Linked DNA regions of Homo sapiens: region 2 is linked to region 1. The links come from fine-mapping of genetic effects on plasma protein levels. A gene starts in region 1. The other region holds a variant in brackets. All regions are shown on one strand. Distances are from middle to middle.

What was found. PIP is the posterior inclusion probability: the model's chance that the variant is causal. The UK Biobank Pharma Proteomics Project read protein levels with antibody pairs (Olink). The fine-mapping took linkage between variants from a reference panel, not from the people measured, so its PIPs are less certain.
Region 2: its variant is fine-mapped to the plasma level of the ARG2 protein (UK Biobank, PIP 0.92).

The regions. Positions count from the first base shown.
Region 1 is chr14:67,617,616-67,627,016 of GRCh38, forward strand. ARG2 (arginase 2) reads left to right here and starts at 2,305. Exons shown (of 8, transcript NM_001172.4): 1 at 2,305-2,473; 2 at 3,279-3,351. The coding sequence starts at 2,363. It overlaps LOC124903331 (a long non-coding RNA gene), which reads right to left. Exons shown (of 2, transcript XR_007064218.1): 2 at 8,252-9,401. It also overlaps a transcript of GPHN not described here. RefSeq lists a silencer at 2,235-2,304.
Region 2 is chr14:67,664,502-67,671,499 of GRCh38, forward strand. All of the region lies in intron 1 of VTI1B (vesicle transport through interaction with t-SNAREs 1B), which reads right to left. It also overlaps a transcript of GPHN not described here. Among named protein-coding and RNA genes, the nearest start is that of VTI1B, 6.6 kb to the right of the region's middle. RefSeq lists silencers at 4,154-4,283, 4,294-4,343. The variant G/C (reference allele first, on the strand shown) is at 866.

The DNA of each region.
Region 1 (9,401 bases):
TAGTGGAAAACCACTGAAAATGACATGCAGGATTAAAGTAGCACTTTGGAAAGGTCGGTCTGGTGATCCACAGTAAATGCTCAAGAAGCAAGAGGTTTTTTGTTGTTTGTTTGTTTGTTTTTGAGACAGAGTTTTGCTCTTGGTGCCCAGGCTGGAGTGTAATGGCACAATCTTGGCTCACCGCAATCTCCGCCTCCCAGGTTCAAGCAATTCTCCTGCCTCAGACTCCTGAGTAGTTGGGATTACAGGTGCCCGCCACCATGCCCAGCTTTTTGTATTTTTAGGAGAGACAGGAGTTTCTCCATGTTGGTCAGGCTGGTCTCAAACTCCTGACCTCAGGTGATCCACCTGCCTCGGCCTCCCAAAATGCTGGTTTTACAGGTGTGAGCCACCGCGCCCAGCGGAAGCAAGAGGTTTTTGCAGTAGCACAGGAAGCCCTGAGGCAACCTGTGCCAGTATCAACTTCAGAAAACATTTAGTAAAGGGGGAAAAAAATTGAATGTAGTGATGGGCAAGAAATACAAAAGTATCAACATAATTTCAATGAACTGAACAAGTATGACAGTATCTGTGACTGTGAATCCCTGACCACGCCCCCACCCATTCCTGGAGGGCTTGTTAAAACATAGGTTACCGGTGCCCTACCCCTAGAGTTACTGATTCTGTAAATTCGCGAGTGGGGCCCAAGAATTTGCACTTCTAACAAGTATCTGGTGACCCATAGCAGGTGCTCAAGAAGCAAGAAGTTTCTTGCTGCTTTTTATTTTTATTTTTTTGAGATAGGGTCTCACTCTGTCACTCAGGCTGAGATGCAGTGGTGTGATCATGGCTCACTGAAGCCTCGACTTCCTGGGCTCAAGAGATTCTCCCACTTTAGCCTCCCAAGTAGCTGGGGCCATAGGCACATGCCACCACATCCAGCTATTTTTTTTTTTTTAAATTTCTGGTAGAGTCAGCGTCTCACTATGCTGCCCAGGCTGGTCTCAAACTCCTGGGCTCAGGAGATCCTCCTGCCTTGGCCTCCCAAAGTGTTGGAATTACAGGTGTGAGTCACCATGTGCAGCCAGTTTCTTCTTGATGCTGTATCCAGGTGATGCTGATGCTGCTGGTCTGGGACCACACTTTCAGAACCACTGCCTTACAGTGGTTATTTTGCTAAGGCCTCAAAGACATCATTGTTAAACCAGCAGGGGGAGACAATATACAACAGAGCCTCTAAAAATAAAATGTCTTAGGGTACTAAAACTCCTTTGGAGTTATGGTGTTGCCATGGAGACCTCTGAACTGTTTTGGAGAGCAGTGTGTAAATTGACATGAGGTGAAATAAATTTCAGGAGTTTATGTAAAAAATTAATTTGGTAGAAATAATGTCTAGATTCTTGCATGCCATGGTGTCTTGGTTAAGAACTTGGAATGTGGAGTCAGCTCTGCCACTTACAAGCTATGTGGCTCTGGGAAAATTACTTATGTCTTTGATCTTTTCTTCGCTTTAAAAAGTAACCTGTGGTATAGAATTGGAGGGGTAAAGTTCTTGGAATGCTGAGATTATTAAATTATTATTCGTTATTAAAACTCTAGTTACTTAGCACTTACAGCTCTTTAGCTTAGAAATAGTCTAAATACGTTGCTATATTTGCTTTTTTAATAACCAGCGCTCCCGTTATTCAGGTAAAGAATTAAAAACATCTAAAAGGTAATTGCTTTGTAAATCCTAACCTCTTTCATTCAAAATACCTAAGGTAGATGGCTCTTTATAAACGTGCCCGGCTCAGAGAGCTCTCATCTATATTATATCTCCGAATCCAAATTTCACTGATGCCCAGTCTAAGAGTGTTTCCTGGGCTTTGAGCTTTGAGATAGAACGAAGCAGGTGGATCCTGGCTTTGACTAGGCAGGGCCAGACCAGGCCCGACCCAGCCAGCCCATCCGTAGAGTCAGCATCAGCCGGGCGTGAAGATTGGTGTCGGCTCCTGCGTTCCGCCAAGTTCAGGAACCTGGCATGGGCCGGCCGCCTCCCGCGAAGGGACACACCTGTTGGTCACCGCGCTCTTACTGGCCAGACCCGGATATTGGCCTTCTGGCGTCAGCGGCAGGGGCATGTCCCTGGCCGGAGAGCACAGGCCAGAGTGGGGTGACGTCATCGAAGGCACGTCCCAGCCTTGCAGAGCGGTGGGCGGGGCCTGCGAAGAAGGTGTGCCGGGGGCTGGTTGGAGGCGCGGGCGGCGGGGCCAATGTGGCGGTGACGTCACGGGGCGGGCGGACGCTGGCGCGGGTAGGTAAGAGCAGCGGCGGGCGGTGGCGCTCACTCCCGGCTTCCAACCGCGCGGAGCCTCTGCCTTGGAGATTCTCAGTGCTGCGGATCATGTCCCTAAGGGGCAGCCTCTCGCGTCTCCTCCAGACGCGAGTGCATTCCATCCTGAAGAAATCCGTCCACTCCGTGGCTGTGATAGGAGCCCCGTTCTCACAAGGGCAGGTGAGAACTGGCACCTGGAACCGCCGGGCAGGATCCTCCGCCCCCTAGAACCTGGAGACAGCGGCGGTAGGGTGCGGGGGACCGGGAGGCGAGGAGAGGATGGGGAGAAATGGCGAGGGGAAGAGCTGGCCGGTTCCCGCTACTGGGCACCGTGGGAGCATGTGGGATATCCTCCGACAGAGAATGGAGAGGGAGGGAGGGAGGGGTGGAGGGCACCCTGTTTGGGATGAGGGTGTGTTTCTGCGGCCTCCCCAGAAAGACCGAGAAAACGGTGGATGCAGCTTGGGGTAATGGAGGGGAGAGAATGAGGAAGAGGATTCCTTGGAGGGGCTGGAGGAGGCGAAACTGGTCAGAATCCCCAGTGGAGAATCGATGGAGGAGGTTAAAAGGAGCGACCGAGGATTTAAGTCTTCTGGATCCATTCACTCAGAATGAGCATTAACTGGGAGGGAAATTGGAGCTGGCCTCTCCAGCGCGGGAGGTGGGGAGGAGCTGTTTTGTTCTCTTCAATGAAGGAAACCTGCAGTCGGGAGCGCTCAGTCATCTCGAAGCCCAGAAGCCCAGTCTCTGGCCCGAGCCAGCCCCACACACGCCTAGCTCCTGGATCCTAACCTGGCTCAGCCTCTCCCGTCTTGGCTTGGGCAGCTGATGTGATTCCAACAATGGAGTTGGAAGGACAGTCATTGATGGAAGGGCTGATGCTGTCACAGGTTTTCAGAGGAACCTGCTGGGAACTAAATGTACCAAATGGGTTTTTTTCCGACACCTTCTCTACCTCTAATTGTGTAATTTGTGTGACTGACAGAAAAGAAAAGGAGTGGAGCATGGTCCCGCTGCCATAAGAGAAGCTGGCTTGATGAAAAGGCTCTCCAGTTTGGGTAAGTGGTTAGATTTTTAGATATTAGTGCAGGACTAGTAATAGACCACTTCAGAGTCTTTTCTCTGACATCCAGGGACTACACAGCTTTGTGTTTGGGAACAGTCTGCCACATCCCGCATCCTCCTTTGGATTCCGTCTGCGGCTTAAGATCAAGGAGTCATCAGGGAAAGTCTTCTTGCAATAAAGAGTGTGTTGGAAGGCAAGGAGGTAGAGTGAGGCAAGGTCTGAACAGCTGTCAGGGAATGCAAGTGATGCTAAGAACACTAGCTCCAGCTTCAACTGCACAGTCAACCTTTCCCCTTAAAATTCCATTTTCCTAACTCCATCTTGAGATGCTTATGATTTATCAGTCTCGCCAGTTTTCTGTCTTCAAATTATTTCCTCTCTAGGGTTAATATCTTTATTACTGGAAGCAGTAATATAGGTCTTATAGGCTCACTGATCTTATATAGAACTAATAGGCTTAGATCTATATTTTCCGTGTTCTTTTTTTTTTTCTTTTTTTGAGATGGAGTCTTATTCCATCACCCAGGCTGGAGTGCAGTGATGCAATATTGGCTCATTGCAACCTCCACCTTCTGGGTTCAAGCAATTCTCCTCCCAAGTAGCTGGAATTACAGGTGCGTGCCACCACACCTGGCTAATTTTGTATTTTTAGTAGACACGGGGTTTCACCATGTTGGTCAGGCTGGTCTTGAACTCCTGACCTCAGGTGATCCGCCCACCTCAGCTTCCCAAAGTGCTGAGATTATAGGTGTGAGCCACTGTGCCCAGCTATAAATGCCATTTCCATAGTAAGGGAGAACCCTTCTCTTAGTAACAGCACCAAATTTGAATACCTTTATAAGCAGGGTGCGGTGGCTCATGCCTGTAATCCCAGCACTTTGGGAGGCCAAGGTGGGTGGATCACCTGAGGTCAGGAGTTCGAGACCAGCCTGACCAATATGGCGAAATCCCTTCTCTACTAAAAATACAAAAATTAGTCAGGCATAGTGGCATGCACCTGTAGTCCCAGCTACTCAGGAGCCTGAGACAGAAGAATTGCTTGAACCTGGGAGGCAAAGGTTGCAGTGATTGTGCCACTGCACTCCAGCCTGGGTGACAGAATGAGACTCCATCTCAAATAAATAAATAAATACCTTTATGGCAGGAAGGTTCTTCTTTATATCCAATCTAAATGTTTCTAGACTCTGTTCAAGGCCATTTGCTCTGTTCATGTTTGGATCATTCACATATCTTTTCTGGTGACATAAGTGCAAAATGTGAGGCAGCACGGAGATTATGGAGATAATAACACATAATCTAAGTTAACTCCCCACTGTTGCTCTGAACTCTTCTCTGCTGGTCATAAGTCCATTCCAAGTGAAGTCATCTCCTTCCAAAAGCCAGAGGAATAATGAAGTCACTGAAACAGCCTTGAGTTGAGGTGTCCTTCATATACCTCCACCTACATATGGATATGGTGACATGGATTCAATATTCGAACCTTGTTTATTAAATAATTGCAGTTTCTTCTTTACTAAGGCCTCTCTTAGTCATTTTAATAACTCTCCAAGTTCACCACTGAAGATTAAAGACAAACTGCTAAGATTTAGTCTTCTTTTAATGTGTGGCAAGTTAACTAATGGGAGGAAGTTTTTATTCCCGCCCATAAATGAGCATACTGTCTCTTAAAATAGCTTGTACACACTGCCTTTTTAAAAGAATCATTTTACACTGAAGACGACAATCTCTGGTTATCACTGTTTTTAAATCCTGGAGACATCTCTGCAGTCCATCTGAACTCGGCCAAGCATTGCTCAAATTGCTCTACCGTCTGTAGGTTCTGCCTTAAGAGATTCCTGACAAGAAGCGGTTTCAGCCTCTTCTGGAGGAGACCTCTATAACAATCAGCTGAGGCTGCTGAATGAGGGGGAAGGGCACATTTGTAGCAGCTTCTCTTACTCATGCTTTGTAGACTTCCTTTCCTGTCACAGCTCTTGGTATTTTTCCACTCCAACCCAGGGGAAGCCATTCTCCTGTAAATATTACTCCCTCTTTAAACTCCAACCTAAAGTGATGGTGAGGCTTCAGTTTATATGGCCTTCCCTTTGACTTTTTTTCTCAAATATATTTAATTGTACAATTATATCCTTACTGTGTAGCTGACTGGTAGCTCAGTATCACCAGCAGTCTGAAATAGAATCTCATAGCCTATTAAATAAAACTGTGGCTCTCAGCAGATTTCTAGCATGTGGTTTTGGCTAATCTCCTGGAATATATTGGAGAAAAGTACCAAGAGACATTTCAGTTGCTCTGTTCCTAAACAGTACCAAAATAACTTGAGTGTTTTGAACACTTTCAAATAAACAGCATGGATCAAATTTCAAAGGAGAGACTCATGGAAAGGTAACTTTCACAATCCCTTTGTTCCTTGCCTTTGCTCTGATGTCACAGGCTGCCGGTGTTACCATAGCATGAGTTAAATTTCCTGTTTTCTCTCGAATGAATGTATTTGACTTAGTGTCTGGGCTTGTTTTATTTCCTTGGGCTTAGTAAGGACACTCAACAGTACTCTCAGGTAACCTTTTTTTTTTTTTTTTTTTTTTTTTTGAGACGGAGTCTCGCTCTGTCACCAGGCTGGAGTACAGTGATGCGATCTTGGCTCACTGCAACCTCCGCCTCCCGGGTTCAAGCAATTCTCCTGCCTCAACCTCCAAAGTAGCTGGGATTACAGGTGCCTGCCACTGCGCCTGACTAATTTTTGTATTTTTAGTAGAGATGGGGTTTCACCATGTTGGCCAGGCTGATCTCGAACTCCTGACCTCAGGTGATCTGCCCATCTAGGCCTCCCAAAGTGCTGGGATTACAAGAGTGAGCCACTGCTCCCAGCCACCTTTTATTTTTCTTTGAGAGAGGGTCTCACTCTGTCACTCAGGCTGGAGTGCAGTGGCATAGTCACAGCCTACTGCAATCTCAACCTCCTGGACTCAAGCGATCCTCCCACTTTAGCCTCTTGAGTAGCTGGGACTACAGACACATGCCAGTATGCCTGGATAATTTTTTTTTCTTTTGTAGAGCCGGGGTCTCACTATGTTGCCCAGGCTGGTCCCGAACTCCTGGGCTTAAGAGGGCCTAAGAGAAATGAAAAGGCATTGCTCTGGCAAGGCTGAGGAGCAGTATATCTGCACTCGATTTTGGTTAGCTCTGAGAACCATGGTAATTTGTGAATTCTAGCCACCTGTTACCATGTGAGAAGGAGTGGGCCTTGTACTCTTTTCTCCAGTTTTTCAAGAAAAGCCAGAAATTTGCACTTTAATGGGAAATCTGTGTTGTTTTAAAATACTGTATAGTGACACCATTGAAAATGGTGGCATAGGACCTCCAAAAAAGGAATGAGAACTGTATTAGTCTGTTCTTGTACTTTTGTAAAGACATACCTGAGACTGGGTAATTTAAAAAGAAAAGAGGTTTAATTGACTCATGGTTCTGCAGGACATACAGGCTTCTGCTTCTGGGGAGGCCCCAGGAGAATTATAATCATGGCGGAAGGTGAAGGGGAAGCAAGCACGTCTTATATGGCAGGAGCAGGAGGAAGACAGCGAAGAGGGAGGTGATACACACTTTTAACCGGATCTCATGAGAACTCTATCATGAGACAGCACTAGGGAGATGGTGCTGAACCATTAGGAACAACCCCCATGATCCAATCACCTCCCACCAGGCCAGACCTCCAACATTGGGGATTAAAATTCAACATGAGATTTGGATGGGAACACAGAGCCAAACCATATCAAGAACATTGGCAAAAATGATCAGAATCAGCTTTTTCAGAACTCTGGAAATTAACCAAAGGCTTGCAGCAATCTGGGGAGCATTTATTCAAGAAAAACATTGAATCTCAGTAAGAACATTAAGAATTGTGGCATTTTAACTTGCCCTGTTCCCATGCTGCCTTTTCCCAGATCAGCTGTAGCCTGGACAACCGATAGCCTGCAATCACAGTGAAACCAGGAGGCTGGCAGTTACTGCAAAAGGGAGAACAGAGGTGATACTCCTCATAGACCATCCCCAGAAAATTGTCATTTGACTGGTCTGATGGTTTCCTAAAATTGTCCATTCACAAGGCTGTCTTTATTTGACCAACACAAGTCAGTAAGGAAAGAATAGTCTTCAGTAAATGGTGCTGGGATAACTGGATATCCACATTAAAAAAAAAAAAATCCCTATCTCACACCATATATGAAAATTAACTCAAAATGGACCAAAGTCCTAAATGTAATGCTGAAACCATATAACTGTTAGAGAACATAGGACTGGATTTTTGCGACCTTGGGTTAGGTATTGGTTTCTTAGCTATCCCATCAAAATCATAAGTGACAAAAATTAAACTTGACTTAGCTAAATTAAATACATCTATGTTTCAAAGAGCACTATTAAGAAAGTGGGGGCCAGGCACGGTGGCTCACGCCTGTAATCCCAGCACTTTGGGAGGCTGAGGCAGGCGGATCACCTGAGGTCAGGAGTTCGAGACCAGCCTCAACATGGAGAAACCCCATCTCTACTAAAAATACAAAAAAAAATTAGCCGGGCATGGTGGTGCATGCCTGTAATCCCAACTACTCGGGAGGCTGAGGCAGGAGAATTGCTTGAACCTGGGAGGCGGAGGTTGTGATGAGCCGAGATTGTGCCATTGCAGTCCAGCCTGGGCAACGAGAGCAAAACTCCATCTCAAAAAAAAAAAAAAAAAAAAGAAACTGGAAAGACTTCATCAATGTAATGAAAAACCAAAAAAAAAAAAGAGAAAAGGTAAAAAGACTGCCCATAGAATTGGCAAAATATTTGCAAATCATATACCTGATAAGATTCTAGTGTTCGGCAAACATAAATAAAATAACAACCGTAAAAAGACAACCAAATTTAAAAATTAGCAATAGATTTAATTAGCCACTTCTCCAAAGAAGTTATACAAATGGGCAGTAAACACATTAGTCATTACGGAAATGCAAATTTAAAACTACAATGGCCGGGTGTGGCGGCTTACACCTGTAATCCCAGTACTTTGGGAGGCTGAGGCGGGCAGATCATTTCAGGTCAGGAGTTCAAACCAGCCTGATCAACATGGTGAAACTCCGTCTCTACTAAAAAATACAAAAATTAGCCGGATGTGGTGGCACACTCCTGTAGTCCCAGCTACTCAGGAGGCTGAGGTGGGAGAATCACTTGAACCTAGGAGGTGGAGGTTGCAGTGAGCAGAGATTGTACCACTGCACTCCAGCCTGGGCAACAGAGTGAGACTCTGTCTCAGGGGAAAAAAAAAACCACAAAACTACAATGAAATACCATTTCACACCCACTAGGATGGCTATGATAAAAAAGATAGACAATACCAAGTATTGGTGAGGGTGTAAAAAGATTCGACCTGTCATACACTACTGGTGTGAATGTAAAACTGCAGCCACTTTGGAAAACAGTTTGGCAGATCCTCAAAGTTAAATGTATAGTTACTGTGTCCTCAAGCAAATCCATTCCTATGTATATACCTAACAGAATTCAAAACATATATTCACACAAACTTTTTTTTTTAGACAGTCTCGCTCTTTCACCCAGGCTGGAGTGCAGTGGTGCAATCTCGGCCTCAGCCTTCTGAGTACCTGGGACCACAGGCAAGCACCACCATGCCCAGCTAACTTTTGTATTTTTAATTTTGCCATGTTGGCCAGGTTGGTCTCGAACTCCTAGCCTCAAGTGATCCACCTGCCTCAGCCTCCCAAAGTGCTAGGATTATAGGCATGAGCCATTGCACCTGGCCACACACAAACTTATATACAAATATTCATAGCATTATTCATAATGGTCAACATGTGGAAACTCAAATGTACATTAATTGAATAGGGGAGGAAAATTTGACATATCCATATAATGGAGTATTATTCAGTCATAAATGGAATGAAGTACTAATTTATGCTACAACATGGATGAACCTAGAAAACATGCTAAGTCAAAGAAGGCAGACACAGAAGGCCACATGTTATATGATTCCATTTATATGAACTGTCTAGAACAGGC
Region 2 (6,998 bases), 46 kb after region 1:
TTTTTTTTTTCTTGAGACAGAGTCTTGCTCTGTCTCCCAGGCTGGAGTGCAGTGGCTCGGTCTCGGTTCACTGCAACCTCCACCTCCCAGGTTCAAGCGATTCTCTTGCCTCAGCCTCCCGAGCAGCTGGGGTTACAGGCACCCACCACCATGCCCGGCTAATTTTTTTACATTTTTAATAAAGACAGGGTTTTGCCATGTTGGCCAGTCTGGTCTCAAACTCCTGACCTCAAGTGATCCATCCACCTCAGCCTTTCCGCTGCAAAAGAGAACAGATGAGCCGGGCTTATGGAGAAATGGCATGTGGGTATTCAGTTGCTGTCCTGAGATTTTCTTAGATGATTTGTCTACTCTGATTTTCATCTTAAGACCTGGCTTTTTTTGAGACTGTGTCTCACTCTGTTGCCCAGGCTGGAGTGCCGTGGCGTCATCTCAGCTCACTGCAAACTCCAACTCCTGGGTTCAAGTGATTCTCATGCCTCAGCCTCCTGAGTGGTGGGGTTACAGGAGTGCACCACCACAACCAGATAATTTTTCTATTTTTTGGTAGAGAGGGGGTTTAACCATGTTGGCCAGGCTGGCCTTGTGTGGTCCACCCATCTCGGCCTCCCAAAGTGCTGGGATAACAGGTGTGAGCTAGTGCACCCGGCCAAGCCCTGACTTTTGAACCCAATCCTACATAAGATGTAATGTCACTGTAATGCTTTATATGGATTTACATTTTGTTAATCACAACAGCATCTAATGTCAGTTATATCTTTTTTTTTTTTTTTTTTTGAGACAGTCTCACTCAGGCTGGAGTGAAGTGGCATGATTACGGCTCACTGCAGCCTCGACCTCCCAGGCTGAAGCAATCCTCCCACCT[G/C]CTCAAGCAATTCTCCTGCCTCATCCTCCCAAGTAACTGAGACTACAGGTGCAGGTTACCACACACAGCTAATTTTTTTTTTGGTAGAGATGGGGCCTCACTATGTTGCCTAAGCTGGTCTTGACTCCTGGGCTCAGGCAATCCTCGACCTCAGCCTACCAAAGTGTTGGGACTACAGGTGTGAGCCACCACACCTGTCCTTGTATCCCACTTTTTAAGTGACCATAAATCATTTTGGATGCGTATATTCTATAATCTCAACTTGAGACCAAGTTCCTCTGAAACATGGAAATTTATTTTGTCATTTTTACTGTGCCATAGATCCTAGAACTATAAACCTCCTTAGATGTGGCTACTGCCTGAAAGGGCAAATGACAACACACCCTTTACTATGTCTCATTCATTGTTGTGTGCCACCCCCTTAATATACACAAGATACTTCAGACAATTTTCTCCATACCACTCACAAAACCCATGGCTGTTTGTTGTTTAAAAAAAGGTAGAGGAAGGTTCACCATGGCAAATGGTATGACTCTTGACCATCTATGATGTAACTGAAATGAGCACCAAGGCAGCTATTACTGTTCCTGAGGGGGATGTGTTCTTAGCTACCAGTACTGAAATAATACCGACAGTCAAAAACGGCTACTTCCATGGAGCAGTATTGTATTATTTTGTAATAAGCTGTCCCAAAAGTGCTGAGCATCATCACTGCTCTGAGTCAGCACATCTCCAAACTCAGGCATGCTCACTCCTGATCCAAGCCAGACAGTAAGAAGCAGTACTGTACACATATGTACATTCCCTTCCTAGCTCCTTCCTTTCCTAGACTTTTCTACAACTGTGTTTAGTCATAAATTCTCCTCCTTTATTCTTCCTTTGTTAATGGGTATGAAAATCCGCATTCTCAAGAGGCAAATTCTAGAATGATTCCAGGAATGTAACTACATAAATGAAAGGGGGAGAAGAAGACCACAGAACCTCTCTCCTTTCACTAACTTCTGTGTGCTAGAATATTCCATTTCCTACCTGATTTCATAAAACACATTTCCTCTTATAAGTGCTCTATAACAACATACTTTTACAGAACTTCACTACATTTATGAGATCCTTTCTGGACTTCTAAGATTTAAAACAAAACAAAACAGAAACCTTTGAAATCATTTCTTGTGATGATAAAGCCAGGGAGGCAGATAATTCAAGAGACTGATCTCTACCCAACTGAGAGGGATCAATAGCAGCTTTTTAAAAATTCTTTAGGCTCAGAATTATGAAACCAATGAATGCTAGAGCTAGGATGTACCTCAGCGATCATCTAGTCTAACTTCCTGCCTTTACCACTGAGGACACTAGACCCTGGAGAAACTGAGTGCCTGCCCCACAGTCATTGGAACAGCAAATGTATGGCAGCACTAGTTCTGGAATGCAAGTGTGCTGACTCCCAGTCCAAGGCTTTTCTGTATATTAAACAACTGTATACTGTATACAACTGAGGGGCATTTTTGTGCTCCCAGAGTATAGCCTTTAACAACTGGTAAAATCTGTTGAAAAAACAAAAAACCTCTTCCTCTTTTTAGGGAGTTAGAATTGATGCTACAATCAACTACAAACAGCAAGGTGGCATCCTGGGGAGAATGGGCACCATGAACAAGAATGAACCACTTCAAATACCACTATCCCCCACCCCACAAGCCTGCCCAAATCAGTCACATGTGAGGGACTCTCTGGGACCAACTCTGTCTCCTTTGGGAAACTGGGTGGATGCTGACATGGAGTAAAATGGAAACAGACAGCTCTGAAAAACAGCACTACAGAAAGCCTACCTTAATGTTTGACCAAGGTGGGCAGCCTCTCTTCCTTATGGGGATTTGAATTTCCAGCCCAAGAATGCCTAATCTTGGCCCTTTAAAGTTGTGGAAACAACTTCAGTTTCACCAGCTCATAAATATGTGGTTACTTTGCTTTTGGTGCCTCACTGTGGCAAAATGGAGGACTTACACCCTTTATTTGTACACCGTGACAGCTGACTAGATCCCACACCATACAAGAGTTAAAAGCAACAGAGATCCCTCTCAACCAACCTGTTTCCTCATCTGCAAATAGGGACTATAAGACTACTGACCTTGTAAGGGTTGTTTGAAAGGGTTAAAAGAAATAATACACATAACATTCACTTAGCAAGTGCCAAATATAATAAGGGCTCAATAAATAGAAACCACCATTGTTTCTGAAAGTAAATACTTAGGAAGAACCTAAGAGCAAAAACCAAATTCAGTAGAAAATATGAGGAGTTAGAGGCCAGGCGCGGTGGCTCACGCCTGTAATCCCTGCACTTTGGGAGGCCGAGGCGGGCGGATCACGAGGTCAGGAGATCGAGACCATCCTGGGTGACACAGTGAAACCCTGTCTCTACTAAAAATACAAAAACTTAGCCCGGCGTGGTGGTGGGCGCCTGTAGTCCCAGCTACTCGGGAGGCTGAGGCAGAAGAATGGCGTGAACCCGGAAGGCAGAAGTTGCAGTGAGCCGAGATCGCGCCACTGCACTCCAGCCTGGGTGAAAGAGCAACACTCCATCTCAAAAAACAAAAAACAAACAAACAAAAAAAATGAGGAGTTAGAATAGTTAAAATTCTACAGTCTGTAAGTAATTGGTGTTTATCGGCCAGCTGATTATAGTACTCCATAGTGACTATTTTTTCTGGCTCTGAAAATAATAGGGTCTTGTGTTATACATACTGATCTAAATGATTTAAAATGGAAAACTTTCAATATTTTTATGATACACGTTAAGACATATGGAGAGATGTCTTCAGGTATGACAAAACCAAAACTAGAAATCATGACCACAGGCATTTAACATTGATTAGATTAAGAAATTATAGCACATTATAGTACTCTGAGGTAATTGGAGAGACCTCTTCAGAGGTTGTAAAACCAAGAGTAGAAATTATGGCCATAGGTATTTAATGAAATATTAAATGGATTAATAATTATTGTAAGTGGTAATGGACAGTTACACAAAAACTTCCTAAAACAGGACACATTGTCTCTAGTATCATTCAAAGGCAGAAAGTGAATGGAGACTGTACTTTGGAGAAATACAGTTTTTGTTGTTTTAATAGGTGGAATATACCCATTTTTAAAGTAATGAAAATGTGGACAACAGAATAGAAATAAATCACAATCATATATCAATATTTTCTTTCCAACAATTCACACATTCCATCATCCAATAGGTATCTATGAAGCACCTAGTCTGTGCTAGGCACTGTTCTGGTACTTAGGAAACACAGTGAAAAAAAGACAACATTGAGCTTATATTCTAGCTCAGTGGCTTTCACACTTAGCCTTCATCAGAAACCCCCTGGAGGGCTGTGAAAACACACTGCTTGTTAAAACTTTCTGATTCAATAGGTCTGGGGTGGGGCCTGAGAATTTGCATTTCTAACAAGTTCCCAAATGATGCTGATGCAGCTGGTTCATGGACCACAATGAAACCACTGTCCTAGTGAAAGGAAGACAAACAATATACTGTAAATATCATAAATGTGGAAAGTGTCTAATATGTCAGAAAATAAGTACTCTGGAAAAAAAAAGGTAAGAATAGTTGTATACAGGGCTGGTATTCTTAATTTTCATTTAAATAAAATGGCTAGTAGCTCTATTATCAGGCAGTATTCTAAGGACTTTACATATATTAACTCATTTACTCCTCACAAAAACCCTGTGAAGTAGATACTATGATTTATCCCCATTTGGCAGGAAAAACTAATTGGGTTAAAGTAACCTGTCCAAGGTCACACTGCTACTAGAAGGTGAATTTAAACTCAGGCAATCTGGCTCTTGAATTCTTGCTGTTAAATATTATACTATATGGCCTCTCAATTCACATACTTCTTCATAATTTTTTTTTTTTTTTTTGAGACGGAGTCTTGCTCTGTCACCCAGGTTGGAGTGCAATGATGTGATGACAGCTCACTAAAACTTCAAACTGCTAGACTCAAGTGATCCTCCTGCCTCAGCCTCCTGAGCAGCTGGGATTACAAGTGAGCAGCACCACACTACTCAGCTTTTTTTTTTTTGTAGAGATAGGTCTCACCATGTTGCCAAGGCTGGTCTCCAACTCTTGGCCTCATGCAATCCTCCTGCCTCAGCCTCCCAAAATGTTGGGATTACAGGCACGAGCCACCACACCTGGCCCCCGTATGTTATTTTTAATGGCAGAAGAAGAAACATTTTGTAAGGCTATATTATGTCATGATCTCTGTTCTACAGGTACCTTTGATATTCTCATCCACAACCCAAACTCTGCTTCTCCTCTTATGTTTCTTACTTAAGTTCATCATTCACCCAGTTGACCAAGTGAAAAAATGCAGACACCCTGGAACCTTTCTCCCTCACTCCTCATATCCATTGAGGCTGGTTAATTTCTGCCTCAAAACCAACTCTTGGGCCGGGAACTGTAGCTCACCCCTGTAACCCCAGCACTTTAAGAGGCTGAGGTGGGTGGATCACTTAAGCCCAGGAATTCGAGAACAGCCTGGATAACATGGGAGACCCTTACTAAAAATACAAAAAATTAGCCAGGCCTGGTGCCATGCACCTGTGGTCCCAGCTACTCGGGAGGCTGAGGTGGGAGGATCACCTGAGCCCGGGAAGCCAAGGCTGCAGTGAGCAGTGATGGTGCCACTGCACTCCAGCCTGGATGACGGGAGACAGGAGTGAGAACCTGTGTCAAACAAATTCCCGTTAGCAAGGTGACTGCCCAAAAGGCTCTTAACACAGTCCCCTGTACCCAGATTCTTGTGCTCTCTCTTGTCCTGTCTAGCCATTAATGCCCTCCTTCTAAAAGAAAATCCACATCAATCAACTGCTTTACGTCCTTTACTGACTTTCCATATCAAGTCCAAATGTCTCAATGTGACACTGAGATCCCCTCACAATCTGGCTGTTTCACCTGCCCCTCTACTACTACTTTCCCACATACATTCTAAGCTCCAGAGTTGGGAGTATTCCATGTTTTACTCCTGTGTTGCCTCTTCGCATTTCCCATCTAGCAAACTCCCATTCAATCCCTTATATTCAGTTTGAAGTTTTTTGAAGCTTCCCCCTCTTCCCCATGCTCAAGTCCAGCCCTTTTTATGGTCTCAGAGAACTTTATTTTAGGATTAATCACACACTTGGTTGTAAGGTTTGTTACCTTTTTTTTTTTCTGAGATAGAGTCTCGCTCTGTCGCCTGCAATCTCTGCCCCCTGGGTTTAATCGATTCTCCTGCCTCAGCCTCCTGAGTAGCTGGGACTACAGGCACATGCCACCACACCCAGCTAATTTTTGTATTTTGAGTAGAGATGGGGTTTCACCATGTTGACCAGGATGGTCTCCATCCGTGACCTTGTGATCCGCCCGCCTAGGCCTCCCAAAGTGATGGGACTACCAGCATGAGCCACCGTGCCCGGCCGTTTGTTTCTTTTTAAGGTAAGAACTCTGGAAGTCCTCAGAGCCTAGACAGTGGCTGATACATAATAATTCTCAGTGTTTATTGAAAAATGACTGAATTCAATTACAGAGCATAAGCTACATGCAAGGACTGTATTATGTACATTATGCTGTGCCTAATAATTCATGATGGGCATTAAAGCTCTGAAAACTTTATGATGTGGTCTCTGAACTAGAAAAAGAGGATTCAGAGATGAGGCACCATGTGTTTGCTTAGATAAATTCAATTTATTCAACAAACATTTATTGAGCAGTGTGAATGAGGTAGTGAATAAGAGGTAAAGTTGTTGGACTTATTATAATTCTAGGGATATGTATATATTTTCTTTACTTATCCATTAAACAACTATGTCTGTTACCAGCAACTTAGAGTATTTTGTGGTTGGGCGCAGTGGCTCACACCTGTAATCCTAGCACTTTGGGAGGCCGTGGCGGGCAGATCACTTGAGGTCAGGAGTTTGAGACCAGCCTGGCCAACATGGTGAAACCCCGTGTCTACTAAAAATACAAAAATTGGCTAGGTGTGGTAGCATGCGCCTGTAATCCCAGCTACTCGGAAGGCTGAGGCATGAGAATCACTTGAACCCAGGAGGTGGAGGTTGCAGTGAGCTGAGATTGTACCACTGCACTCCAGCC